Linked DNA regions of Homo sapiens: all the other regions are linked to region 5. Evidence: fine-mapped expression QTL. A gene starts in region 5. Each other region holds a variant in brackets. All regions are shown on one strand. Distances are between the middles of the regions. Region 1 holds the start of VASH1-AS1 (VASH1 antisense RNA 1). Region 2 overlaps VASH1 (vasohibin 1). Region 3 holds the start of VASH1 (vasohibin 1). Region 4 overlaps LRRC74A (leucine rich repeat containing 74A). Region 5 holds the start of ANGEL1 (angel homolog 1).

Evidence for each region. PIP is the estimated chance that this variant, and not a neighbour inherited with it, causes the effect.
Region 1: its variant is fine-mapped to the expression of ANGEL1 in whole blood (TOPMed, PIP above 0.99).
Region 2: its variant is fine-mapped to the expression of ANGEL1 in transverse colon (GTEx, PIP 0.94).
Region 3: its variant is fine-mapped to the expression of ANGEL1 in whole blood (TOPMed, PIP above 0.99).
Region 4: its variant is fine-mapped to the expression of ANGEL1 in whole blood (INTERVAL, PIP above 0.99).

What each region holds. Positions count from the first base shown.
Region 1 is chr14:76,786,604-76,791,704 of GRCh38, reverse strand. ANGEL1 (angel homolog 1) reads left to right here. Exons shown (of 10, transcript NM_015305.4): 8 at 339-408; 9 at 931-1,094; 10 at 2,317-5,101. The coding sequence ends at 2,477. It overlaps VASH1-AS1 (VASH1 antisense RNA 1), which reads left to right and starts at 4,981. Exons shown (of 2, transcript NR_104184.1): 1 at 4,981-5,101. The variant G/A (reference allele first, on the strand shown) is at 2,213.
Region 2 is chr14:76,775,373-76,780,473 of GRCh38, reverse strand. VASH1 (vasohibin 1) reads right to left here. Exons shown (of 7, transcript NM_014909.5): 5 at 4,201-4,582; 6 at 2,403-2,515; 7 at 1-1,528. The coding sequence ends at 1,456. Among named protein-coding and RNA genes, the nearest start is that of VASH1-AS1, 8.8 kb to the left of the region's middle. RefSeq lists an enhancer at 3,977-4,935. The variant C/T (reference allele first, on the strand shown) is at 2,119.
Region 3 is chr14:76,761,359-76,766,459 of GRCh38, reverse strand. It overlaps VASH1 (vasohibin 1), which reads right to left and starts at 4,992. Exons shown (of 7, transcript NM_014909.5): 1 at 3,330-4,992. The coding sequence starts at 3,638. RefSeq lists silencers at 4,466-4,735, 4,836-5,025. The variant C/T (reference allele first, on the strand shown) is at 2,764.
Region 4 is chr14:76,846,899-76,851,999 of GRCh38, reverse strand. The region is part of intron 7 of LRRC74A (leucine rich repeat containing 74A); the gene reads right to left. Among named protein-coding and RNA genes, the nearest start is that of LRRC74A, 23 kb to the right of the region's middle. The variant G/A (reference allele first, on the strand shown) is at 3,170.
Region 5 is chr14:76,810,721-76,815,821 of GRCh38, reverse strand. ANGEL1 (angel homolog 1) reads left to right here and starts at 2,940. Exons shown (of 10, transcript NM_015305.4): 1 at 2,940-3,058. The coding sequence starts at 2,995. RefSeq lists a silencer at 2,873-3,302 and enhancers at 2,751-3,324, 3,325-3,899.

The DNA of each region.
Region 1 (5,101 bases), 24 kb after region 5:
AGGACAAGTGAGAGGGAAACTTCACTGATACTTTTTGCTACATTTTGATTTTGTACCATGTGACTATATGACTTATTTTTTTTTAATCAAATTAAAGAAAAACAAAGGTGAGGAGCCACAGAAGACAATGTCTGTGTTAGATGCCCTACATCTGCTTTCTGAGGTTCTTGACTTTGGTTTATGGTCATCTTCTCCTCCTCACTGTTTCTCCCTTTCTCCTTCTGGATCCTTCTGAAGCAATCCAGTCAAGGATCTGAGAGGGATTTTAGGGTGAAAGGTTCTGATCCTGCTTCACTGTCTGTGGATGAGAAAATGTTTTTCTCTCTGGTCCTCTGCAGAGCGACCTGCGGGTTGGGCTGAGTCTGTCCTTGAGGAAGATGCATCGGAGCTTGAGCCTGCCTTCTCCAGGTAACCTTCTCCAGTTCTCTTCTGTTTTCAATCCAGCCCTTGCCTAGGTGTAAGAGAGAGATTCCCATTGGTTGTCCTGAGGTTGACTTGGGGGAGCACTTTTTGATAAGCTCTTTTTCCCCTAATATCTGCTAAACTTATAGAGGGTTATGTAGGTATGCAGAAGCCAGAGGTGACCCACCCATGTTACTGCAGGTGAAAAGGCTATGTACTCTTTCCTCAGAGGGTAAAGCCTCACAGAAGAGGCCTGGGCCCCAGACAGGGGTACATTGGGGATACTTTACCAGGTAACAAGCAGATAGTGGGGGATTAGGAGTGTTAGGGAGTCTCAGTACAAATGTGTGTTTCTAGGCTAATTTTAGCTAAGACTGCCAGCCCCTTCTTAGCATGGGGAGGAATTGGCTGAGATTGAGTCATCTGAGATCATCCTTTTAAAAAATCTTCATAAAACCCATAGAAAAAGTGATCTAGGGAAAATTTAGTAATTTTTGTTAACTAATGTTTCCCCCTTCATCCCTGTAGGACTGTAGGTACCATCCAGCACTGCCTCCACCTGACGTCAGTATATACCCACTTCCTGCCCCAGCGTGGCCGCCCAGAGGTCACTACAATGCCATTGGGTCTTGGAATGACAGTAGATTACATCTTCTTCTCAGCTGAGTCCTGTGAGAATGGGAACAGAACTGGTAAGCCTGATGGATCCTGGGTTCCTCCACCCCCAGGTCCCTGGGAACAGCTAATGGTAGGTCAGGCATTTGGTAGCATGTCTTCAGCTGCTGGGATTTAACCAGCAAAGGAGCAGATTTCATACCTCCCTTGCACTGGTCATCCTTATCATTCTCCCCATAGGCCACTTGCCTGCCTTGTCTCTTTTTACCCTTGCAGCATTAAAGAGAGGAGGGTAGGACAGTCACTCCCAATCCCCATTTTAGAGGTAAAAATAGAGATCTAGGAATTGGTTGAGTTTGTTTAATGACAGCCACTGAATGAGGGACTTGGTTAGGTAAGAGACCTTATTTTCTGTCTCCTCTCCCCATACCAGTGGGCACAGTATAGCAATCTCCCAGCCCCATGCCTGTATTGTGTAAAGAATGTTTCTTTTTGGCCAGGCATGTGTATTACTGTTATGGCCAGGCACGTGTATTACTGGTTCACACCGGTAATCCCAGCACTCTGGGAGGCCGAGGTGGGTAGATCACTTGAGGTTAGGAGTGAGACCAGCCTGGCCACATGATGAAACCCCGTCTCTACTAAAAATACAAAAAATTAGCCGGGTGTGGTGACGGTGTCTGTAATCCCAGCTGCTTGGGAGGCTGAGGCAGGAGAATCGCTTGAACTCGGGAGGCAGAGGTTACAGTGAGCCGAGATCGTGCCACTGCACTCCAGCCTGGGCAACAAGCGTAAAACTCCGTCTTAAAAAAAAAAAAAAAAAAAATTAGCCAGGCATGGTGGCGGGTACCTATAATCCCAGCTACTCAGGAGGCTGAGGCAGGAGAATCGCTTGAACCCGGGGGTCAGAGGTTGCAGTGAGCTGAGATTGCGCCACTGCACTCCAGCCTGGACAACGAAGTAAGACTCCATCTAAAAAAAAAAAAAAAAAAATCAGATTTTATATAGAAAAGCTGGATCTCTAGCTTCTCTTGGAAAATCAAAAGATCTTATAATGGTGGGCTCTCCAGCTTGCCCCAGTTCCCCGGAACTCACCTGTCTTTATTCGTTGATGATATTATGGAGTATCTCTGAGAAAATGGGGCCTCCTCAGCCAGATGCTGCAAGAGGAGGTGAGGGGCAGTGGGCAGCCAAG[G/A]GGATGCAGCCTGCAGAAGGCGTTCCCAAAGGACTCTGCCACTGCCTGCCCATGCAGTGTGGCTGCGGCTGCTTTTACCCATTGGCTTCTGCTTTGTGCCCCAGATCACAGGCTGTATCGAGATGGAACTCTCAAGCTCCTGGGTCGTCTCTCCCTTCTCTCTGAAGAGATACTCTGGGCTGCCAATGGCTTACCCAACCCCTTCTGCTCTTCAGACCACCTCTGCCTGCTAGCCAGCTTCGGGATGGAAGTCACCGCCCCATGACAGGGCTCCCAGGGGAAGAGAGCTTCTCTTCCAGAAGAGCTCACTGGATCAGAGACTGTGGAAAAATCCCATGCATCTAGAAACTTAGATCCAAGAAACTTACATCCCCTCCCTTCCCCCTCCTCGTTCCCTTTTTCCCACGGTTAGACTTTCTCCAGGCCTGGCTGCGTTCTCTGCCTGTGGTCCTTGCCCCACCCCAGCCTCTTCCTAATCCTGTGCCACACACTCAGTGGCCCTGGGAGAGGCAGAAGGGGGGCTCCCCCTTCCTTCCATGTATCCAGCGCTCCCCCTTGATTTTTAATTACCAGGGTTATGGGAGTTCTTGATTTCATTGGTTATTTGCTTTCAGGCCGTTTCTTGATGTACCTTCTGACCTGACCTTTTCCCTGCCTTCAGGACTTCTGGGCCCAGCCCTCTTGCCAGGCATGCATATGTGAGATATGCATATCATGTATGTGTCCTCTTGGGGTGAGACTTCTGCACAGCCATGCCTGCCTCTGACCAGTCCACTTTTCATGTTGGGGCTGTAGGCCTGGGGCAGGTTCAGAGTCTACCCAAGTACCTATGTATGAGCAGGCAGCAGCAGGGCATGGCCCCATCTCTCCTTTTAGCCTCTGTGTTTCATTAGGCATTCATCCTGCCAACCAGGGCAGGCCCGGCGTCTGGGCTCTGGGAACAAATGGGGCCCACATCCTGGAGTGGCAAATTTTGGGGGATGCGCTACCTGTCCCAGCTGGCCCTGTGCCTCCAACCCAGAGCTCCCCACAGACCTGGTGTAATTTCACAAGGGCCATCCCTTTCCCCAGGCTTCCCTGAGGGAGGCGGAAGTTTGAACCCTTATGTGGGGTTCATTGGGCTAGGGTAGTGGTATGAGGTTTAAAACTATTTAAGGATTAGGAGGAGAAAGAGTCTTCAGGAAACTCTTGTTTCACTGGACTCTGCAGCCTGCAGAACTGGGGCAAGGGTAGGAGTTCCAGTAGGGGAAGGAGCAGGTAGACTCTTCAGCTGCCTCAGCTGGGACTGAAGACCTAAGCTGATTCTCTTTCCTCTCCACTCCTAAGAAGCAATTTTCTGTTCCTCTCCTTCCACCACTTTTTACTTTCTGCTATCTCCCATCTCCCGCTTCCCTTCCATTTCCTTTCTAGAAAACCCTGGTATTTAGCTCAGGCCAAACTGCCTCAGCAGAAAGGTGGCCTTGGACAAAACTGGTCCAAGAATTTGAAGTGGCAGTACTTGCGGATTGGCTCTGTCCAGCAAGGCCTCAGCTGCTTGTTGCGTCTGCTTTCCCTCCCCTAACAGAAGGGTACCCTGGCTTATTCAGGGGACTCCTTAGTCCACACTGTGTCACCTGCATGCCTTAATCTTTCATTGCTGGGGTGTGGCCTTGGGAGATCCTGGGCCAGCCCCTCCACACATCTCCCTAAGTCAGAGTGGCTGCTGGCCCTGGTAGATTTGACTTGCTCTTGCCTCACTCGACCTCCAAAGTGGGACTGAAGACAGTGGTCAAGAGACTTGAGTTCGGGACAGTAAGCCAGGGGTTAAGGTTCTTTCCTTTTTTTGAAAGCCAAAGACCCAGTTTGCATTGTGCTGCTGCATTCATGGTTAGAAGCTTTCCATGCCTAGGTTCTAGGGAATTTATTTTTCTATGTGTATATATTTTCAAACTTTGTTTCCTGGGTACTGGGCATGTGCCTGTCTGAGCCCCAGGTCTGTCTACACCCCACCATTCATTCTGTCTGTCTGTTCCCTGGACACTGCCTAAAAGGGTCTCAAGACAGTGCCCTGTGGGTTCCTAGGACTAGGGCCCATCACTGTTCTCTTCTGCTGGGAAATGCAGCTTTAAAATGGCTAACCACAGCAGAGGGCAGATGCTTGATAGATTATCTTTTCCTTGCTTTCTTGTTTCTGTTTTGAAAGTGAAATGGGGTTTTAAATTGTTATTTAAACTCTTTTTCCAAATAAAGGTTTACCTTTTTTCCCCCCAATGTTGTTCATTTTATTAGGATCCTGAAGGGATTAGGTCCTTGAGAGAGGGCCTGAAGAATGAGGTGGGCAGAGGAAGAGACTAAGGAGCTTTTGATCTTGGGGTGGGGTCTCAAGACATGAATCTAGATTGAGAAATGTGTTGTAAGATCTCCCTCTATTAGCTGAGGTAAATTCCCACTGCTGTGAGGCCTGGGAGGAACAGGGCTTGAGTGAAGCCTCCTGCCTTGACACTGCTGGGGTACAGCTTTCTTCTGTCCTTCCCAAGTGAGAGAATGATTCTTTGGACTGCTTTTCATTCTTCCTCCATCTGCTCCCCCCATGCCTCCTCCTAGTATCTTCTGCACTTCAGGAGGGTCTGTGCAAAGTGGGATAAGATGTGTGTTTTCCTGATTAAAGCTATGGCAGCTGCATGAGACATGATGCGGGTGGCACATGCCTCTTGCTGAGCATCTATTTCTGATCTCTTTTGCATTCTGGAGCCAGGGCTGAGCAGTGGGCCATCTGTCGCTGGAAAAATGTCTCTTCCTTCCTAGGCCTACCTCTGTTGGTGCTTTTGTCTTCCAACCTCCCTATGTAGTAAGACCAGCCAAGCCCACATGCCCACTGGGAGCCCTGAAACCAGATCTGGTTTTCTGTCT
Region 2 (5,101 bases), 35 kb after region 5:
TGTCCCTGGCAGACTTACAGCCTCTCAGTAAAACAAAACCTTAATGGTCATCTCATCCGTTTACCCTTCCACAATCTGAATCCTTTCTACCTTTCTACCGCCTCCTGACAAACAGCCATCTCGTCTCTGCTGTAGGTAACCCATTACTCCTCAAGCAGCCTGATCCTGAACTCTCCCCCACATCCCTTTCTCACTTGCATCCCCCAGTTCCCAGCTGTCCCTCAGTGGCTGCACTGCACCCTTTACCTGCACCTCCTTGTTGCTTGAGCCTCCAGAACCTACCCCTGGCTCTGCCAACCTCTCCGCATCCTCTCACTTTCCCACTGGGTATCTCATGCTGACGGGCAGGCTGGGGACAACCCCAGGTGCCTAGGTTCTTCCCTGCCAGGGCCCTGATGCCCTGCCACAAGTGACTGGCCCAGCCATCATTGCAACCCCAAGCCAAGATGGGCTGTTAAAGAATGGAAGGCAGGCCTGGGGCAGAAGCATCCTAGTCTGGTCTTGATTTCCCCAGCAAGGGCTCCTGGCACTGCTGGCGGAGAGACCCAGGCCCAAGCATCCCGCCCCATCACCCCATGTCCAGCCACAGCTCCTGGACTGGCACCCAGGGTTTGCTCAACTCCCACAGCCATGCTGGCCTCAGTGCCATTCTGGGTCCTCCGCCAAGCCCAGACCCTCCGCAGGGAGCCTGTGGGCTAGAGCAACAGGCAGAGCTGGGACTGAGCAAGTAGACGCAGTTAGGGCCTGGGAACTTTTTGCCCAGAGGTCCTTCCCTGGGCTCGCTCTCATATCACCCCTCCTCTGCCCACACAGCACTGCCCATGGGGGCCTCAAGGGCCTGAAGGCTCTCCTGAGCCACGAGCTCATGCTCTTGGGGCAGATGTGGCCTGTGCCAAGCTCCTGGTTAATGGGCTACACAGACCTTTCTCAGAAGGACTCCTACCCTGCTTCCCTTTCCCTGGGTCAAGATTCTGCCAGGGCAGGCAGAACTGGAGAAACATCTCCACCCCACCCCCACCCCCCATCACAGGCCTGGTAAGGCTGGGAGATTTCCCACTGATAAGATGCACCCAACTCCCAGAGAGAAGCCAGGGGCAGAGGCACCAGCAGAACCAGCAGTTTCCCTCACCTGGCCCCATGACACATGGATTTGTTAAGCACTGGCCTTCCCACCATCAGCAGATCCATTTGGACTAAGTTTTCCCCAAATACCTTAAACTTCAGTTGTAGAGTTAAAAACTCCAAATAAAATACTAACGGCCTCTAGGCCCAAAGTTAGGGGGCTTGGCTCAGTGGGAGCGAGAGCAGCTTGGGGGGCTGAGCTGGAACACACTCTTCCTGCAGCCTCTTGCCCTGCCTTGTCACCAGCCCCGCCTTCCCCATGCATAAGGCTGGTTCCAGCAGGTGGATCCTGGCCCCCAAGAGTGGGTGGGGCCTGGGGTGCTGGCATCCGCCTCAGACCCGGATCTGGTACCCGTTAAGGTCTGGCATGGCTTTGGGCTCGGAAGTCTTCTTGTCACCCGAGGGCCTGTGGGAGGAAGAGAGCAGAGCGGGAGGAGAGTGAGTGGTCTGTTAGGGAGATGGAGTTGGGGAGCCAGCAGCGGCTGCCTGGTGGCTTCCCCGCCACATTCTCCAAGTGGCCCTCCAACGCACAGCACAGTGCGTATGGAAGTGTGTTTTTGGACACCCTGGCCCGCCTGTGCTGTCTGAATGTGGCCCCGGCTCGCTCTCACAGGCTTTCTCGCTGCTGGAGGCTGGCTAATCTGGCTGCAGTTGGTAGGTAACAGCTTAAAGTATAAATCTGTCTGAGGGGAATCTGTCATCTACAAAAGCCTCTTAGATAAAAGTCACAGATGATGGATATTTTGGTGCCAGAGGCCTGCTTAGTACCCCACCCCTGAATTCATACCAGAGAGGTGGCTCCTGAATGACAATTATATTTAAAGCAAGAGTCAGAGTGATGTGTAGGAGCTGAAATCAGAGGAGGAGAGCTGGTATTTCAATGGCTTGTTCTTGCTACCTGGATACAGACAAAAACCAGACTCTTGGGTGGGGGGCAAAGTTATGTTCAAAGCCATCTAATATTCACGCCCTCCCCCATGACATTCCTGGGTGGCT[C/T]ACTGCCTTGCAGGGGCCCCATCCTTTCTACCTTTTCTCTCACATAACCCATGCTCAGACTAGTGGGCTAGCAGAGTTTGGTTTCTCTGGGGAAGTAGAACTGCCTTGCTGTGGGAAATGTCAATACACAAACCTCTAAACCCACCATCCCAAGTCACCTCCCTTGGGTGGGAGCGAAAAAGAGAGAAGGGTGGGAGAGAGATAAAAAAAAAAAGGGACCCACACGATGAGAGGAAAGGAAAAAAACCCTCTTTGGACCCACCCAGGCGTGGTCCCTCTCTCACCGTCTTTCACTGCGGCTGTTCCTGCGGTGGGGGCTGGACTGGGCCCGCTGCGGGGAAGAAACATCCTTCTTCCGGTCCTTGGTGGGAGAGGGAGGGCCCGTCCCTTTGCCAATCTAGGTGCAGAGGAGGAAGCAACAGCATCACTCCAGGACTGCCCTGGAGCCCAACCTCTCCTTCCAGGAGCCACAGGTCCCTGGAGGCTGCCCTGGGGAAGGCCCGGGGAACCTCAAGCATGGCTCTTCCCTGTCTGGATCTTTCCCAACCTATTTCCCAGGCACTAAAGCTGCCAGAGCAGGAGTTCCTCCATGGGGCTGTCCAATCCCTGTGGGCTCCTGAAGGCAGAGTGGAAGTGGGGGAAGTCACTGAGATACCATAATATTGCAAAAAGTCCCCAACAAAGGCCAGGTAAACGTGCCAGTTGTGGGAGCAGCCCACACTGAACTTGGGGCTGAGATCCCACTCACCCCAAGGGTGATGCTGGGTATCTCCAGCCATTGAGAAGTCAGACTGGTAGCTTTAGCTCTGCTTAAGAAAAAAATGAGAAAAACAAAAGAGTCATCCTTTATATGGCACCGTCAGCTTGACTTGAGTTTTCAAAACGCAGGAGTGCTGGAGAGGGGCAAGTAACACAGGTGAGTGTTTAGCACTGAATAGGCTGGGAATCCATCACAGCTCTAAACACTAGGGAACTGTTGGCTCTCACCCTAGATCCAATCTGATGCCTTAAAGACACAATAGCAAACTGAGGAGCAAGAGCCAGGGTGCTGGGGGACCCAGAGCTAGGTGGGGAGCGGCAGCTCAGGGGCAGAAGAGAGCAGCCCCTCTCTAACGCAGGGTTGGCTGCAGCCTGCCTCTGCCCTAGGGGAAGGCACTGTCACCCCAGGAGATCTTGGCCTAGGGCTGGCAATGGCTAGGGCAGCCGTAGCTCTTACAAACCCCTGCCAGGACACCTGCAGGCACCTGCAACACACCTGGGTTCCCCATCACCCCATCAGGAGGCTGAGCTCCAGTCTGATCTGCCTCTCACTGCCAGTGAGCAAGACTCTGGGCTTCCAACCCTGAAAATGGAGCTACCACCTACCGCCCGCTGGCCTCCCAGGGCTGTCAAGAGAAGCAGTGCACTTGGGAGTGCAGAGGTCGGTGGTTGAGGCGGAGGCTCCAGGCTGCCTGGAGGGGCAGTCACAGTGCAGCAGTGACTGAGCTATGGAGATACCCAGCAGGGGGCCCTGGCAGCCCCAGGAGAACCCAGGCAGATGTCAGAATTCTGCCTGCTGAAAGGCTCTAGGGCTCAACAGCTCAGCCCAGCTGTTTTTGGTACAACAGCCCCCAGCCCAACTCCCTATCACCTCCTGCTCAAGTGTGGGTGGGAAGAGGAAGAAGGAACACTGCCCTCATTGTCTTCCACATGGTCTGACTTCCCTTTCTTCTGACCACCTCCTAGTCCTTTAATGGTTGCTAGGGTTGGGGGGCAGAGTCAGGATATGTTACAGGAGGAGTGGGGAGGCTGCCCATCACAGCACCCGATCACACCCTCCAGACAGGCCGTGATTCTCCACCAGTGACCTTGCCATGTGCCCAACACCTACCACCATCCAAACCCAGCCCACCCACCTCCTCCCTCCGCAGCCGTCCTGGTCTGCCCACCCCAGGGGACCACCTGAACAATATCGACCACTAAGCAAGGTCCCAGCACCCCAGTCCCCTGAGAAGCTCCCCAGTCCTCTCAATCCTCACATCGCCTCTGCTGGGGCGGGGGAGGGGGCGAGGGAGGGGGCGAGGGCGTGGAAGGCGGGCAGACCTTGAGCCGCATGTCGCGGGCGTGGCGCTCCAGCTCCTTGCGGAAGTCATCGCGGCCCAGGCGCTCCACGTCCAGCACCGAGTGCTTCCACTCGATCTGCTCCACGCTGTGCGGGTCGTGTGACACGCTCTGGCCCAGCTTCACCTTCTTGAGCACGTGCCAGCAGCGGCCGTAGGCGGCCTCGAAGTCCAGCACGAGCTCGCTGAGCGTGCGGAAGGCGGGCGGCTTGTACATCAGGTCCTCGCGCCGACTCATGCCCAGCGCACCGTAGCGGCCCGCGAAGTTCACCCCCAGCACGATGTGGCGGAAGTAGTTCCCTGAGAAGTAGGTCTTGAAGCTGATGGGGAAGCGCTCCAGGGTGGGCATGCTGTTGGTGAGGTAACTGGCCAGTGCCCCGCTAAGGAAAGAGCCAGGAGAAGCACGGGGCCAGCACACCGGGAGGGACTGGGACCGGGAGCCACGGGGTCCACGCACCGCCAGCCTTGGGGTGCAGACACCAGTCCTGCTCATCTCCATACGCCTGGCGTCTCCTCCTGGTATTCCTGCCATCTAGCATTGAGCCTGGTATCCAGCTGGAGCTCAATAAAGGGAACCTCGAATAGGCACGGGGCTTCCAGGGATTTGTGGCCACCGCTCTGAAGTCCAGCAGGGCTGGTGCCACACTGCAGGGCTTTCCAGAGCCCAGTGGCCCAAGGACGGAAGAGAAGCCTTCCCTCCCCTGCCTCACTCCCTCGCCCTCCATCCCGCACCTTGGCACACACACAGGCCACAGACGCGGCTTCACTCTTCTCTTACCCTCACCCTGTCCTCTCCCCATATCCACATGCAACCCTGCCTGTGGCCCTTCAAATACAATCACGTGTACTACTGAGGCCTGGGAGGTGCCCCCAGCCAGCCCCAG
Region 3 (5,101 bases), 49 kb after region 5:
CATAAATAAATCAAAGGAAAGCACTCTGGAGTCATAATAAGTAGCTAGAGGAGATGTCCAAATTCCCATTCTGCAGGAGCTCTGTGGCCTGAGCCATAAGAGACCATAAAAGACCTTCAGCAGCTGGGTCTGGGGTCAGTGGCCACTAAGCTTTTAAAGGGGGTGGAAGCCTGAAACATCAAGGACAGACTCTTATCAAGGAGCCTAAGCTGTTGCTGGATTTGGGATCTTTCTAGAAATTGTTGCCCTATAACATACTGGCATCATCCCTGTAAAGGCTGCTTCTCCAAAGCGCTAGTGGGGTGTCGATGAACACTCACTCCCTGCTCCATTACTGGGTATCTATTAGAGGCACTTAATGAAGCATCACATGCTTTGCATCATTAATTCCTCTAACATCCTCTTGATGGGCATTGCTATTAGCTCCATTTCACAGCTGCGGAAAACTGAGGCACAAGAAAGTTGCCTGTCTTCCTCATATAAGTAGTTATGGGAGATCAAGGATTTGAACATGGTAGCTTTGACTCCAGAGTGCTCTCCTTTTATGACACCAGCCTGCAGGGGTCCCAGACTCAACCACATGCAGGGGCCGGGCAAGTAACATACACGGGGCAGGCAGGCCTGGTAGGTGAGTGGTGGAGACAGTGGCAAGATGGGGGAGTAGGACTCACTCCCCAGCCCCAGCTGACAGCTGCCACGTGGGACTGCAGATTCCCATGTGTTCCCAAGTCTTCTTATTTTCTGAAAAGATGCCAAAACTCTGGATCTTTATGTGAGAAATCTCCCAATTTTCCCAACAAAACACTTCTTGAGCCCCACACTGTGTGGCCGCTGTAGGGAATGACCCTGTGCCAGCTCCAGTGGCATGGCCCCTAGGGATGGTAAGGGCGGGGTCAGCCCACCCTGCCACTGGCACCCTGGCACCCAGGCACCCAACCCACGCTGCTTCTCTCCAAGGCCTCCTGGACTCCACTGCACTCCCAGACTCTAAGGGTACCTTTCTACTCAGAGCCCAGGTAGAGGAGGGACCTCATGCAGACTCATGCGATTTATCTGAGATCTGTGGTTTGAAGAGGGGGAGGTTCAAATTTTTCCAAACCTCTCACAAAATTCCTTCTACCCTAGCGATGGAAGTCTAGGGGTCTGTCACAACACAGCCCCCACCCCTAGACTTCCTTCATCCGTGTCTTTCCTGTACATGAGGACTGAAGATGACAGAATGACATTACAGACCAGTTACTAGTGAGCTCACTATTTCTTTTTTAGTTCCCAGGAGTGGTGGCAGTTCTGCAGGGAACCATTCACACTCTTTTATGGCCTGATTTAGACATAAGCAAGATGGCTGGAGAGCTGCCCGACTTGTTCACGTGGGAGCAGGGTGTGACTCTGGCCTCATCGGGACAAATGATCTGAGCAAAACCCAGTCTTGCCGCTTGATAAAGCACATAAGTAAAGGTGATGGATGTCTGGCCGGGCGTGGTGGTTCACGCCTGTAATCCCAGCACTTTGGGAGGCTGAGGTGGGTGGATTACCTGAGGTCTGGAGTTTGAGACCAGCCTGGCCAAAATGTTGAAAATGAAACCCCATCTCTACCAAAAATACAAAAATTAGCCAGGTGTGGTGGTAGGTGCCTACAATCCCAGATACTCAGGAGGCTGAGGCAGGAGAATCACTTGAACCAGGGAGGTGGAGGCTGCAGTGAGCCAAGATCATGCCACTGCACTCCAGCCTGGTGGAAAGAGTGAGACTCCATCTCAAAAAAAAAAAAAAAAGGTAACTGATATCCAATAACCAGGTACTGGTTTGGGGCTTTACAGTTTGTTAAATACTTTAACACACAGTCTCTCATTTCTTCCCCACAATCAACCTCATCTTATTGATAAGAAAACTGCATCTCAAATAGGTGGAAGAGGCCATATAGATAAGCAGGTGACCCCTACCAATGTCAATATCCTTTGACGCAATACTTTCGCTTTCAGAATTTTTCCCAAGGAAATAATCAGAGATGAACCCCAAAATTTATATTTTAGAATGTTCACCATAGTATTCATTTTAGGAATAAAACTGGAAACAACATCCAACTCTAGGGGATTAGCTAAATAAATATTAAGTCAGTGCAGAGCACATTTATGCGGCCATTCCAAATCAATCTACATTTTGTTTCCCCTGGAAACATTAGGCAGTATTTAAACCTTCAACCTTTGATTCTCTTTTTCCCAGAAGACACTTTCTGATGGCTGTACCAATAACTTGGTAAAAACAAAACGGGCCACTTGTCCTCATGTCTAATTCACACTAACTTCCATTCTTCCTAGCCCCCTTCCTTCCAACCTGGGCAGGCAGGGCTAAGCACTGGGCTCTGAACTCAGTCCAAAGGGCTCTTTTTTGGAGATTTCAGGCCTCTGCATTTGGCAAAGTGCCTCCTAGTCTTGATCATGTTTTTTTTTTTTTTAATATCTGGCATGTATTTCCATATAGCAGCGTACAGCACAGAAACTCTCAAATACCCTTTCATTCAGCAAACACACACACTAGTGCCTGTTCTGTGCCAGGCACACAGGAGGCCTTGGGAAGACAAAGATGAATGAGATACAGCCTCTGTTTTCGTTGGTGACACAACTGAAGTATAGCTGTCATGGAGGAGGAGTTACAGCCAACACAGAAAAATTATTTCATTTTATGCTTCTCCATAAGACCTCTTCTAATGTGCTTGAATCTACTGTCCAACAGAGAAGAGGACCTGGACACTTCCCTCCACCACCA[C/T]CCCCCGCCCTTCTCCTGAAGACCTGAAATTGAATCTCAGTTCTGCCACTTACTGGCTGTGGGATCTTGAGTTCCTACTTGAGTTTTCAGCTTTCTCATCTGTAAAATGGGAATCCAAACTGTACTTACGTCACAAGGCTGTTGGGAGAATTCAATGACATAATGCACGAAAATATTTTCTCAACATATGAAGCCCTGCATCTCCTTAGTCATTCATTACATTTGTCTGCTCACAGTTCTCTGGCTTGGCAAGTGTCATCAAGCAAATGAGACGTCAAGCCATCCTACTGTGTTTGTTAGTTCCATCTGCTGCTGTCCCCTCCTGTAAAACGTGGACATTTTAAAAGACAGCGGGGAGGGCCTCCTGGAGACAATGTATGTGAGCCTCCCTCCTAGAATGGCAGTGAGAGAAAGTTCTCCTAGACAGGTATGATATCACTGCATTTTAAAGATCTTACCGAGCCAGTGGTCCCCTGCCCCGTGGGAGGAGAGTGTGGCTTCACTCTTGGCCCCAAGGTCACTAAAACCTAGACTGTGCTATCACCCCCCTGACCCGTGTGTCTCACCTTGGGCAGGTCTGTGGCCCCACGGATCCGTTGCGCCACCTTCTCTCCATCGGGGTGGATCTTGGCCACGTGTTTCCACATCCTTTCCCAGGTGGCCTCATCCACAGGTAGCCCACCCCGGTTGACAAAGAAGGGGACGCCTCCGTCTCGCAGGTCCTCTTCCCCTTCCTCTTCTGGCTCCTCATCTCTCTGGGCTGAGGTTCCTTCGCTGGTCTCCAAACGCCTGACCCCAGAGGGGGCGGTGGCCGCAGCGGACGTTGGAGTGGCACCGCTGCTGCCACCCCCAGCCACCTTCTTCCCCCCTGGCATCCCTAAATCTTCGAGGGGGGTGGTGGAGGCGGGAAAACAACTGGCTCACAAGAGGCCTCCCACACACCGGCTGCAGAGATAACACATGGCCAGAGTGCAAGGCGCCTTTAAGAAATCAGGGCGTGGCTCCTGTACAATAAAATACGACTTGATAAAAAAAATCAGTGCAATAAGGTGAATTAGGGTCCGAGGGGGTGGGTTGTCTGGGGTCAGCCTTGGAGGCCTTGTTCTGTTTGAAAAACGGAATAAAGAGAACACACCCCAACTTGGCAGCCGTCACAAAGCACCCCCATCTAACTGCGAGAACAATGACGGGCAGCAGTGAGGGCTGGCAGAGCGGAGAAAAGTCGGAGGGAAACTGAGGCCAGACAGCTCGGACCAGCGGCTGCAGAAAGGACAGAGTCAAGGCACGGGTGCCCACTGGGCGCCCTGGGTCTCAGTTTCGGAGGGAACAAAATCCCCTACACAACTCTCGCACGCTCACATCTGCGCGCGCCCCAAGGAAGACCGAGGCGACTCCCGGCCGCGCGAGCTCGGAACCAAGACCCCCGGGCGGGAGAGCGGCGCTGGGGGGCGATTTCTCCGACGCGACGAGACAAGTCCGGGAGCCAAGACTCGCAGCTGGCCGGGAGCGGGGAGGGGGCGCGCGCCGACGCGCACATTCCCCGCCTGCGGCCAACTCCCTGCACAAAGTGGGCTTTGTCTGGGTCCCCTGTCCCCTCGTCCCCAGAAACAGCGGCGGAGTCCCCAGAAAGGGAGCGGGCGCGGCGGGGAGGCGAAGGCTGCGAGCCCCGAGGCCCAGCGGGTCCCCACTCGGGCGCGTCTCAGCGGGAGGACGGCTGGCACCTGGCGCCGCGCTGCACCAGCCGAGCCATCGCAGGGCACGGGGCCCGCGGCTCAGCGGGACCGGCTCGGGCGGCGCGCAGGGGCCAGGCTGAGGTCACTGAGCGGCGGGCTGCGGCCGCGGGGTCGCTGCCTGGGACTGGCTGCAGCATGGGCGGTGGCGCGGCCCGGGCGGGCGGAGGATGCTCCGTGGCTGTTCGCTCGGGCTGCAGCTGCCCTGGCTGAGGGTGGAGGAAGGACCGCGGGGCGGGGACCGCAAGCCCGGAGGCTCGCGCAGCCTCGGCCGGCGGATGTAGCTGGAGGCGAGTGACGAAGCCGGGCGAGCGCGCGCTGCGCTGGTGCCTGGGGAGCAGCCCGCCAACGCGGAGCCCGCCAACGAGAAGCCCACCAGCCGATCGCTGCTCGGCGAAGCTGGGGCCGCCGCTGCTGCAGCCCCGCCGCCCCTGGGCCCCGCTGCCGCCGACCACGTCCCCTGCCAGCCAGCCGCCCACCAGGCTCGACTACGGCCCGCGCCGCGCATGCGCTCCGTCCCCCCCTTAAAGGGCCAGCGCCTTCGCGCCCAGTCCTCCGCCCCCCGCGGCGGTGCCTCTGTCCCAAGTTACCCCAAGGACGCCGGTGGG
Region 4 (5,101 bases), 36 kb before region 5:
ATGTTTACCATGGCATCATTTATAAAAGTAAGAATTAGCCAGGCACAGTGGCTCACACCTGTAATCCCAGCACTTTGGGAGGCTGACATGGGCAGATCACGAAGTCAAGAGATCGAGACCACCCTGGCCAACATGGTGAAACTGCGTCTCTACTAAAAATACAAAAATTAGCTGGGTGCGGTGGCGCGTGCCTGTAGTCCCAGCTACTCAGGAGGCTGAGGCAGGAGAATCGCTTGAACCCGGGAGGCAGAGGTTGCAGTGAGTGGAGATCACGCCACTGCACTCCAGCCTGGCGACAGAGCGAGACTCTGTCTCAAAAAAAAAAAAAAGTGAGAATTATTTGGCCAGGCACGGTGGCTCACACCTGTAATCCCAGCACTTTGGGAGGCCGAGGCAGGTGGATCACCAGAGGTCAGGAGTTTGAGACCAGCCTGGCCAACATGATGAAACCCCGTCTCTACTAAAAATACAAAAATTCACTGGGTGTGGTGGCACACACCTGTAGTCCCAGCTACTCAGGAAGCTGAGGCAGGAGAACTGATTGAACCTGGGAGGCGGAGTTTGCAGTGAGCCAAGATGGTGCCATTGCACTCCAGCCTGGGTGACAGAGCAAGACTGCATCTCAAAAATAAATAAATAAAAGCAAGAATTATTTATCTGGTGGAATATTATGAATTAAAATAGACAGAAGTAGCTGGAAAACATCTTCAGGGGCTGTATTTACACAGGAAGGCTGTGATGGACCTGGCATATTACGTCACATGATGCCTATCATGGCAGGCCACGGCTGCAGTGGTGACTCCAGAATTTCTCTCCAGCAGAGGCTCAGGGGCACAATCAGTTGGAAGTGGGGAGGCACCAGGCTTGGCGAGAAGCTGGGTTTGCACAGAAATCATACTTTTGTTTTGACCTGAAGATGATTTTGCTTACATGTTCCACAGGGTTGGAACATCCTATTTAAACACATTATTATTGTTGTTTTTATTTGGGGAGGGCAGTTATGCCAAGGAGGCCATTGATGGAAAGGCTAAAGTCCTCTTGAACCATTACTGAATGGGAGGATAATGGGAGGAATTGCCTTTAGGCCTCTGGCCCAGGAATAATGTCTTATTTCTTTTCTTTCTTTCTTTCTTTCTTTTTTTTTTTTTTTTTTTTGAGACAGAGTTTTGCCCTTGACAATCTCGGCTCACTGCAACCTCCGCCTCCTGGGTTCAAGCGATTCTCCTGCTTCAGCCTCCCGGGCAGCTGGGATTATAGGCGCCTGCCACCACGCCCAGCTAATTTTTTGTATTTTTAGTAGAGACAGGGTTTCATCATGTTGGTCAGGCTGGTCTCGAACTCCTGACCTCAGGTGATCCACCCGCCTCGGACTCCCAAAGTGCTGGGATTATAGGCATGAGCCACTGCACGGGCCTATTTCTTATTTTTCATGGACAGTGCACTACGTTCTGATCATGCTTCTCTTTGTGTCAACCCTGGGTGTGAGTTTTTAGTAAAGTGCACAACACCTTATATAATTTTGGGAACAAACTTTCTCCTGCCTTCATTACCCCCTCCCCTCCTTCACTCTCTTTTTACCCTTATTTCCTCTTCTCTGCCAATTCCCTCATTTAAGCTACACCTTGCACACCTGCATCACTCAAATGGCCACACAAGTTAGATTATAATTCTGATCTCACCACTTACTACCCATGTGATCCCAGGCAGGTTACTTATCCTTCCTTTACATCTGTTTCCTTATCTGTACGATGGAGATATCAACCTGTATAGAGTTGTTTTGTTTTGTTTTTTTGAGACGGGGTCTCCGTCTGTCGCCCAGGCTGGAGTGCAGTGGCGCAATCTCCGCTCACTGCAAGCTCCACCTTCCAGGTTCACGCCATTATCCTGCCTCAGCCTCCCGAGTAGCTGGGGCTACAGGCACCCACCACCATGCCTGGCTAATTTTATGTATTTTTAGTAGAGACGGGGTTTCACCGTGTTAGCCAGGATGGTCTCAATCTCCTGACCTTGTGATCCGCCCGCCTCGGCCTCCCAAAGTGCTGGGATTACAGGCGTGAGCCACCACGCCTGGCCCTATATAGAGTTTTTTTTAAATGAGGATTGATGTAAAATGCCCAATTTGATGCCTGTCACATAGCAATCACTTCAAATAATAAGTGTTGGGTTTTTTTTTTGTTTTTTGGGTTTTTTTTTTTTGAGGCAGAATTTCCCTCTTGTTGCCCAGGCTGGAGTGCAGTGGCACGATGTCTGCTCACTGCAACCTCTGCCTCCCAGGTTCAAGTGATTCTCCTGCCTCACCCTCCCGAGTAGCTGGGATTATACACCCAAGTCACCACGTCCAGCTAATTTTTTGTATTTTTAGTAGAGACAGGTTTTCACCATATTGGCCAGGCTGGTCTTGAACTCCTGACCTCAGGTGATCCACCCGCCTCGGCCTCCGAAAGTGTTGGGATTACAGGCATGATCTACCCCGCCCAGCAATAGTAAGTGTTTTTAAAAGCTGCACTTGCAGTACGATTATAACAATTTTAAAAGACAGCACAGGCCCGGGGCAGTGGCTCACATCTGTAATCCCAGCTCTTTGGGAGGCCGAGGAGGGTGGATCACTTGAGGTCAGGTGTTGGAGACCATCCTGGCCAACATGGTGAAAACCCATCTCTACCAAAAATACAAAAAATTAGCTGGGTGTGATGGCTTGGGCGTATAATCCCAGCTACTCAGGAGGTTGAGGCACGAGAATTGCTTGCACCCGGGAGGCAGAGGCTGCAGTGAGCCAAGATTGTGCCACTGCACTCCACCCAGCCTGGGCAACAGAGCGAGACTCCGCCTCAAAAACAAAACAAAAGAGAGAGCACAGTCTGTCTCATGTTAAATTTATGACCTCAGTTTTCAGACAGAGACTCAAACTGCCCCACATGGAAAGGTGCTTCCATTACATGTTGCTCCTCCCTCCTGCATGGTATTTTATACCTTCTGCTCTCCCATCAACCCTAGTGGTCTGAACTGAACTTTCAGCTGAAGATCTTGCCTCCTACTTCACTGAGAAAATAGCGGCAATGACAGGCTTCAAATGCCACCATGAAATCTACCCACTTACTGCACCCGCACCCACCCTTTCCTCGTCCATTTTTCAATGAATGAACTGTCCCTCCTGCTCTCTCAGGCCAGC[G/A]AGCTCCGCACTTTTGTTCTGGACTCTATTGCCTGCAGCCTTCTCATGGACTTTGCTCCTGTAATTACCTCCTCCTTCTTCTGTAGCATCAGTTTATTCTTCTTTCTTCCTCTCAGCATTTTCCATCCTTAAGAACTCTCCTTGGACTCTATGTCTCCCTTGGCTCCTGCCCCCTTTTTCTGTTCCAACCTTCCCAGCAGAACTTCTGTGGTTGCGTATAGTGTTCTTTTTGCTTTGCATCCTATTTTCTTTTTCTTTTTGGAGGACAGGGTCTCACTCTGTTGCTCAGGCTGGAGTGCAATGGCATGATCACAGCTTACGATAACCTCTAACTCCTGGGCTCAAGCAGTTCTCCTGCCTTAGCCTCCCAAGTAGCTGGGACTATAGGCATGTGCCACCATGCCCAGCTAGTTTTTGATTTTTTTTTTTTTTGAGATGGAGTCTCACTCTGTCACCCAGGCTGGAGTGCAATAGCAGGATCTCGTCTTTTATTTATTTATTTATTTATTTATTTATTTATTTTTGAAAGTAATATTTTATTTTATTTTTTTATCATACTTTAAGTTTTAGGTTACATGTGCACAACGTGCAGGTTTGTTACATATGTATACATGTACCATGTTGGTGTGCTGCACCCATTAACTCGTCATTAAACATTAGGTATATCTCCTAATGCTATCCCTCCCCACTCCCCCCACCCCAGGATCTCATCTTACTGCAACCTCTGCCTCCCAGGTTCAAACGGTTCTTGTGCCTCAGTCTCTCTAGCAGCTGGGATTACGGGCGCACACCACTACACCGGCTAATGTTTGTATTTTTAGTAGAGACAGGGATTCACCATGTTGGCCAGGCTGGTCTGGAACTCCTGACCTCAGGTGATCCACCCGCCTCAGCCTCCCAAAGTGCTGGGATTACAGGTGTGAGACACTGTACCCAGCCCAACTTTTGAATTTTTTGTAGAGAGTGGGTCTCACTATGTTGCCCAAGCTGGTCTTGAGCTCCTGGCTTCCCATCTTGGCCTCCCAAAGCACTGGGATTACAGGCATGAGCCACTGTGCCAGGCCTCCATTTTCAACTCAACCTCCTCCATTTGGGTTTCCATAACTCACCCACTCCACTAAAACAGCACTTTTTTTTTTTTTAAATTTTAAGTTCAGGGGTACATGTGCAGGTTTGTTATATAGGTAAACTTGTGTCACAGGGTTTGTTGTACAGATTATTTCATCACCCAAGTATTAAGCCTAGTACTCAGTTATTTTTCCCGTTCCTCTCCCTCCTCCCTCCCTCCACCCTCAGTTAGTCCCCCAGTGTCTGTTCCCCTCTCTGTGTTCGTGTGTTCTCATAATTTAGCTGCCACTTATAAGTGAGAACAGGTGGTATTCGGTTTTCTCTTCCTATGTTAGTTTGCTAAGGATAATGTCCTCCAGCTCCAACCCTGTTCCTGCAAGGAACATGATTTCAGTTTTTTTGTGACTGCATAGTATTCCGTGGTGTATATGCACCAAATTTTTTTAATCCAGTCTACTACTGATGGGCATTTAGGTTGATTCCCTGTCTTTGTTACTGTGAATAGTTAAAATAGGACTTTCAAAGCCACTAACACTCCATGCTGCCAAGTGCCATGGTTACTATTTTATCCTCGTCTTATTTGATCTCTCAACAGCATTTGATGCAACTGTCGATCTTCTTCCTGCACTGCACCCTTCCTCGGCTCCTGCCACCTCGCTTTTCTGGTTTCCCTCCTATTTGACTGACCACTCCTCAGACTCCTCTTCCTCCTCTGTGAAACCTAAAAATGTCGGAGTGACCCAAAGGTCAGTTCGACGGCCACCTACTCAACTCTGTCTACACTCCCTGACTAGATGACTTCATCTTGCCTCATGGTTTTAAATACATCTATATACCTATGACCCCAAATGTGTATCTTCAGCC
Region 5 (5,101 bases):
GTGGTTCACAACATATTTCTTTTGGGCAGCACTGTCCCAGGCGTTGGTCCGTAGCCTCTGTAATCCTGAAGAAAGCACTATGCCGCCCCAATATTTGCACATGTTCAACCAATAAGTTAATAAATGCAGCCACTCTGTTGGAATTCCACATATATTTGTTGTCATAAGTAAAATTTTAGCCCTCAAGGGCTTAAATTTCTTATAGACTGGAAATGTCCCTTTAAGAGAGCATCTTAAGTCTCTCAAAGTATTGCAAAACCTCCCACTTGCTCCATTACATAGGTTCTGCACCCTGGAAACCATGGTAGTGATGGATGCAGGTGCTCATACTTGTCTTCATTGTTAGCACAGCTGGAATGAATTGAGGGAATCGTCTCTCTTCTTGGGATATTTCTGAAACAATGAGGCTGGAGACTGTGCAGATTGCACTTGTAATTTTCCTCTGACTGGGGAAGCCTAAGGCTCCACTCCTTCGGCCAAGTCTCCTTGGAACCTGTAGTTATTGGCTTGCTTAGTAATACTCATTACAATTTGGAGGGCAGGAGCTCTATTTTAGCCAGAAATTGTGGAAGAAGATCCTACATCAGCCACGTCTGGAGCTGCTTTTCTGCCCAAATCCAAAAATGTAATAGTAAACATTGAGAGTTTATACTGGGTCAGGCACAATGAGGAAACTGAGGCCCCAAGAGCTTAGGCAACCTGAGAGATTCCACAGGTAAAAAGTGGCAGAGCCAGGATTTCAACTCAGTTGGTCTAACTCCAAAGCTTGTGATCCTTATATCACCCTACACCTTCCAACACGGCTGATTATGGACCAGGAAACAAAAAGAGGGAAGCCTCACTTAACTGGCCGCAGAAAAAGCCTCTGAAAGAACATAGATCAGTTGGGCTGACACATTGTGCCCACACTGTGCACTGAACAGCCCAGTTGAGACTGGATCCTTTAGCAGAGGTTCCCAAACCGTGCATTGGAATAAGTAAGTGTTTAAGGGCCTCATTCCAGGGCTGCTAAATCAGAACTCTGGGAGTAGGGCCTAGAAATTTGTATTTTGAAAGCATTTTCCCAGTGGAGATAAGGGAACCGTTACCCTTGATTAGGATCTGATTTGGAACTTGGACTTCTGGATAACTCATGGTACAAAATGGAAGGAGGGTACAAGGAGGGTTTTACTTAAGCTACATCAAAGGAGGGGGCCTGACCTCGGGAGCGCCTTTGGTAGATCCACCATTTGTGCACTAATTTCTAAGCAGCTTCCCAACCTTCAGATTGCTGGGCCTCTGTTTCATCTCAAAGGGATAAGTGCTGTTGCCTGAAGGCAGGCAGACATTGCCACCTCTAGAACTAAGGGTAAGTAGTGGGAAGGCCACAATACTAACTCTCTCCTTCTTCCTCCTATTAGCCTTTCAGTGTTATGATGTACCCAGCTGGTCCAGGATCTGGTGACTCCCCAGAAGGCTTCCCTGAACAACCAAGGCTCCAGCCACAAACTGGAAATCGTGCAACTCAGACACTGGGTACTGAAACTGGGTGCATTGTCCAGTCCCTCCTTCAGAGCCTGTTTGGGGTAGAAGATTGGGGGAGGGGGACTGGGGAAGAGAGACTCAAAGAGGTCGCAGGTGGCACAGAAGTGATGGCAGAACTGGCCTTCATTTAGTGACATATGCTTTGTTCAACCAGTCAGTAAAGGCTTATGTGGTGGCTAGTAGTGCTAGCGAATGCAGATTCGGCCGCTTGCAAAACCAACGAGCAAGGTCGTGGTATGGTAGAAGGAGACTGACTTTATTATAAACCAAAGCTAGCAGTGGGGAAAAACGATCCAGGCTTTTGCTTTAATGGAGCTGCTTCACATTTCCAAGCAAAATGCGAGGCTTTAAGAAGTTTTGGCATGGAGGGTATGCAAGGGGTGAGGCAGTGCAGGTCTTCATGACGAGTTCTGATGACTTGTCTTGAGTTACTGCCCATCTGGTGAATGGGCTGGCATCATCTCGGGCTGGGCTGAGTTATAAATTAACTGTAGCCTTGAATCAATCTCCTGGTGGAGATTTCCACAGATGCCTATATTGTTTCAAGATTTAGTCTCTGGAACTTTTAAGCGAACATACAATTAGATATGCTAACAGTGTGTATGGGGGGTGCTGGGGTGTCGGGGGGTGCCTAGTGGTTAACTGAACAAAAATAAAGAAATAGAAGTATATAACAAGAATATAACTTCCAAGCTGGGTACTTGGTTACAATAGGTGCTTGGATTGTATTAGAGATACCTCAAAGTGAGCAAACAACCAGCCAGAACTGGTCCCTGGCCTTGTGGAAGTTTCTCTCTTCTGTCTCTCTCCTCTCTCCCTTCTCTCTCTCCTCTCTTTGTCCTCTCTCCTTTCTTTCTTGACTTCCTTACCAATGGGAAACCCTGTTTTTCTAGATTAGGGAAAAGAAGGCCCGTTTAGAAAGTAGGGAAGGAGACAAAGTCTTACTTCCTGAAGCAAGGTAGGACTCAATTTGTGACCTAGAATCTGAGACAGGGAAGTAGAGGCAGGAAAACGGGGGAAATGGGGGAATAACTCGCTTCCTTTCTGGGTCGAGAAGGGCTAGAAGTCAAGGTTCAGTGGAGCCTTAGAGAAAGTCCAGCTCTTCATTTTACAGGTGAGGAAACTGAGGGGCGGAGAGGCTATAGTGTGGTAACAAGGTGGACACCTAGTCAGCTGCAGAAGTGGGAATAAACTGTGGCCTTTGAATAACACTATGGGGCCTCCAGTGAGGCGCTCAATTTTAATTCGGGACGCCTGGGTGGCAGCCGGGTGCTAGGGGTGGCTAGTTGCCATGGGAACCGGCTCCTCCCACTTCCTGCGTGCGCACCCGTAGACCTGCGCTCCCAATAAAGTTGTTGTTGAAGCGCGGCGGCGGCACCACGTGGGCCGGACCGGGCCGGGGGCGGGGCCGAGCTGAGGGAGGACCTGCTGGCTGCAGTGAGGAGCGGAGGCGGGCGCGGGCGGCCGGCCATGATCGCGTCGTGCTTGTGTTACCTGCTGCTGCCGGCCACGCGCCTCTTCCGCGCCCTCTCAGGTACCGGCCAGGCGTACCGACAGACAGGAGCCCGGCCAGGGCTCGCCTCTGCGGGGCTCCGCGGGCCTGGGGCGGCGTGCGGTTGGCCGGGCCTCACGACTACCGTGCCCCGGGCAGTGCCGAGGTGTAGGGAGGCGGTCCTGAGCCCCTGCCCCGCGGGCCCCTCCTGACCCCACGAGGCCTGGACCTGGCCGACGTCCCTCGTGGGCGGCCCCTCCTCCCGCCTGTTGTCAGATGGCGTCCGGCCGCGGTTAAGGTGGAGAGGAGCTGTGGACGGGCAGGGCCCTTTCCTGGCCCTGGGGGTGCAGAGAAATTGTGGGGTCGGCCAAGTCAGCACCCCGGCGGGTCGGGAAGGGGTAGTAGCTCGGACCTAGGCGAGTGCCCAAATTCTCAGCGGGCGAGGCGGGTCGGCTCTGGGAGGTTTATGGCCGAAGTACTGGACGCACCGATCTTCCCCAGGTTAACTTCACACTCGCCTTTCACTGCCACCTGGCAGCTCTCGCTCACCGGTGTCTTTGGTTGAAAAACGGACGTTCAATCAGAGACACATTTAGATCTCAGCTTTGGAGCATTCCTGCCCCCACTCCCGGCGGTTTAGAGGGAGATGTGCTGGGGTGGGGGCAATGCCCAGTCGATACCTCAAAGAGGGGGTGTTTATTTCGTTATTGTTTCATAATTTGTCTGCATTCTCTATTTCTGGGCTTTGAAATTACGGAGGGTTTTATGCGACCATCAGTTTCTGAGATCCCATGGAACTCGCAGACTTTTTGCCTTTAATTTATGGGACAGGACCAAGAAGTACTTAGGAATGAGGGCTCCAATTGTATATTCTGTGGTTTTCCTTTGTGGAACTTTACACAATTGGTACGCAATGTGTGTGTCATTGATAATATATATTTCATATAGAAATATTTTAAATTTTACTGTGTATCTGCCATTAGAATGCAAACTTCAGGAGCGCAGGGCCACGTCCATTTTGTTCGCTGTATCTCTGGTGTTAACACATTGCTTGGTATACAGTAGGCACTCAGTGAATTCAGGAATGTCTTGTGTGTCCATACTTCTGAGGAATGTGGGAAACTCCACAGAAGTAATTGTTTCCAGAGAACTAAACATATTCTTTTAACTATGTTGCTGTTTTTCCTGGAGCTCTTCTAATGCCTTAGTGATACAGTATACTAGTCCAGAGGTTTCCAGACCAGTAGAGTTCTAGGGATCTCAGAGGAGGGCCCCCCCCGCCCCCCCACCTACACATTACAGTAGTCCCACTTATATTTACTTGGCATATTTGGTTTCCAGATAAGATTTTTAAAAAACAAAAGCATTCTGCTGCTGAAAATCCACCACCACCACCACCAAAAGACATCTACCAAAATTGAAAGCTAGTAACTTCGTGCATATGAACCAAAGAACCTCTGCCATCTGGTATACACAGAGGATATTTCAAGGGGCAGATAATCAGGAAGTCCTTGAGGCTAAAGCTCAACGACCCAGCCCATACATAGGTTTAGAGCAGGGTTTCTCAATCTCAGCACTGTTGACGTTTTGGACCGGATCATTTGGTGTGGGTCTGTCCTGTGAATTGTTGGAAGTTCAGCAGCGTCTCTGTCCTCTAACCACTAGATGCCAGTAGCAATGCTGCAGTTGTGACAACAACAGTGTCTCTGAACGTTGCTAAATGTCTTCCGAGGGCAAAATCACCGTGGTTAAAACCATTGTTTAGAAGGACATAAATATACATAGACCCCAAACAAGATATTTGAACCGTCTTTCAATATTTGAGCCACTTTTAAGGTTTCTTCCCTTTAAAAAAAAATTGCCAATAAAATGAGTCTAGTGATTGAGGGCCAGCATCGTGCATGTTACTCGTCCTGTGCTGTAAATAAATGGTTGAGTGTGTGAGTGTAGGAGTTGTTTGCTCTCACCAAAATACTGTGCTCAGAGTTTGGGGGCTCTAATTTTAGAGTTTTTCCCACTTTCTTTCTTGCCTGTTGGCTGTCATTGGTGGCTGCAGTATCAGAGAGATGTCAGCTGTCTCTTACT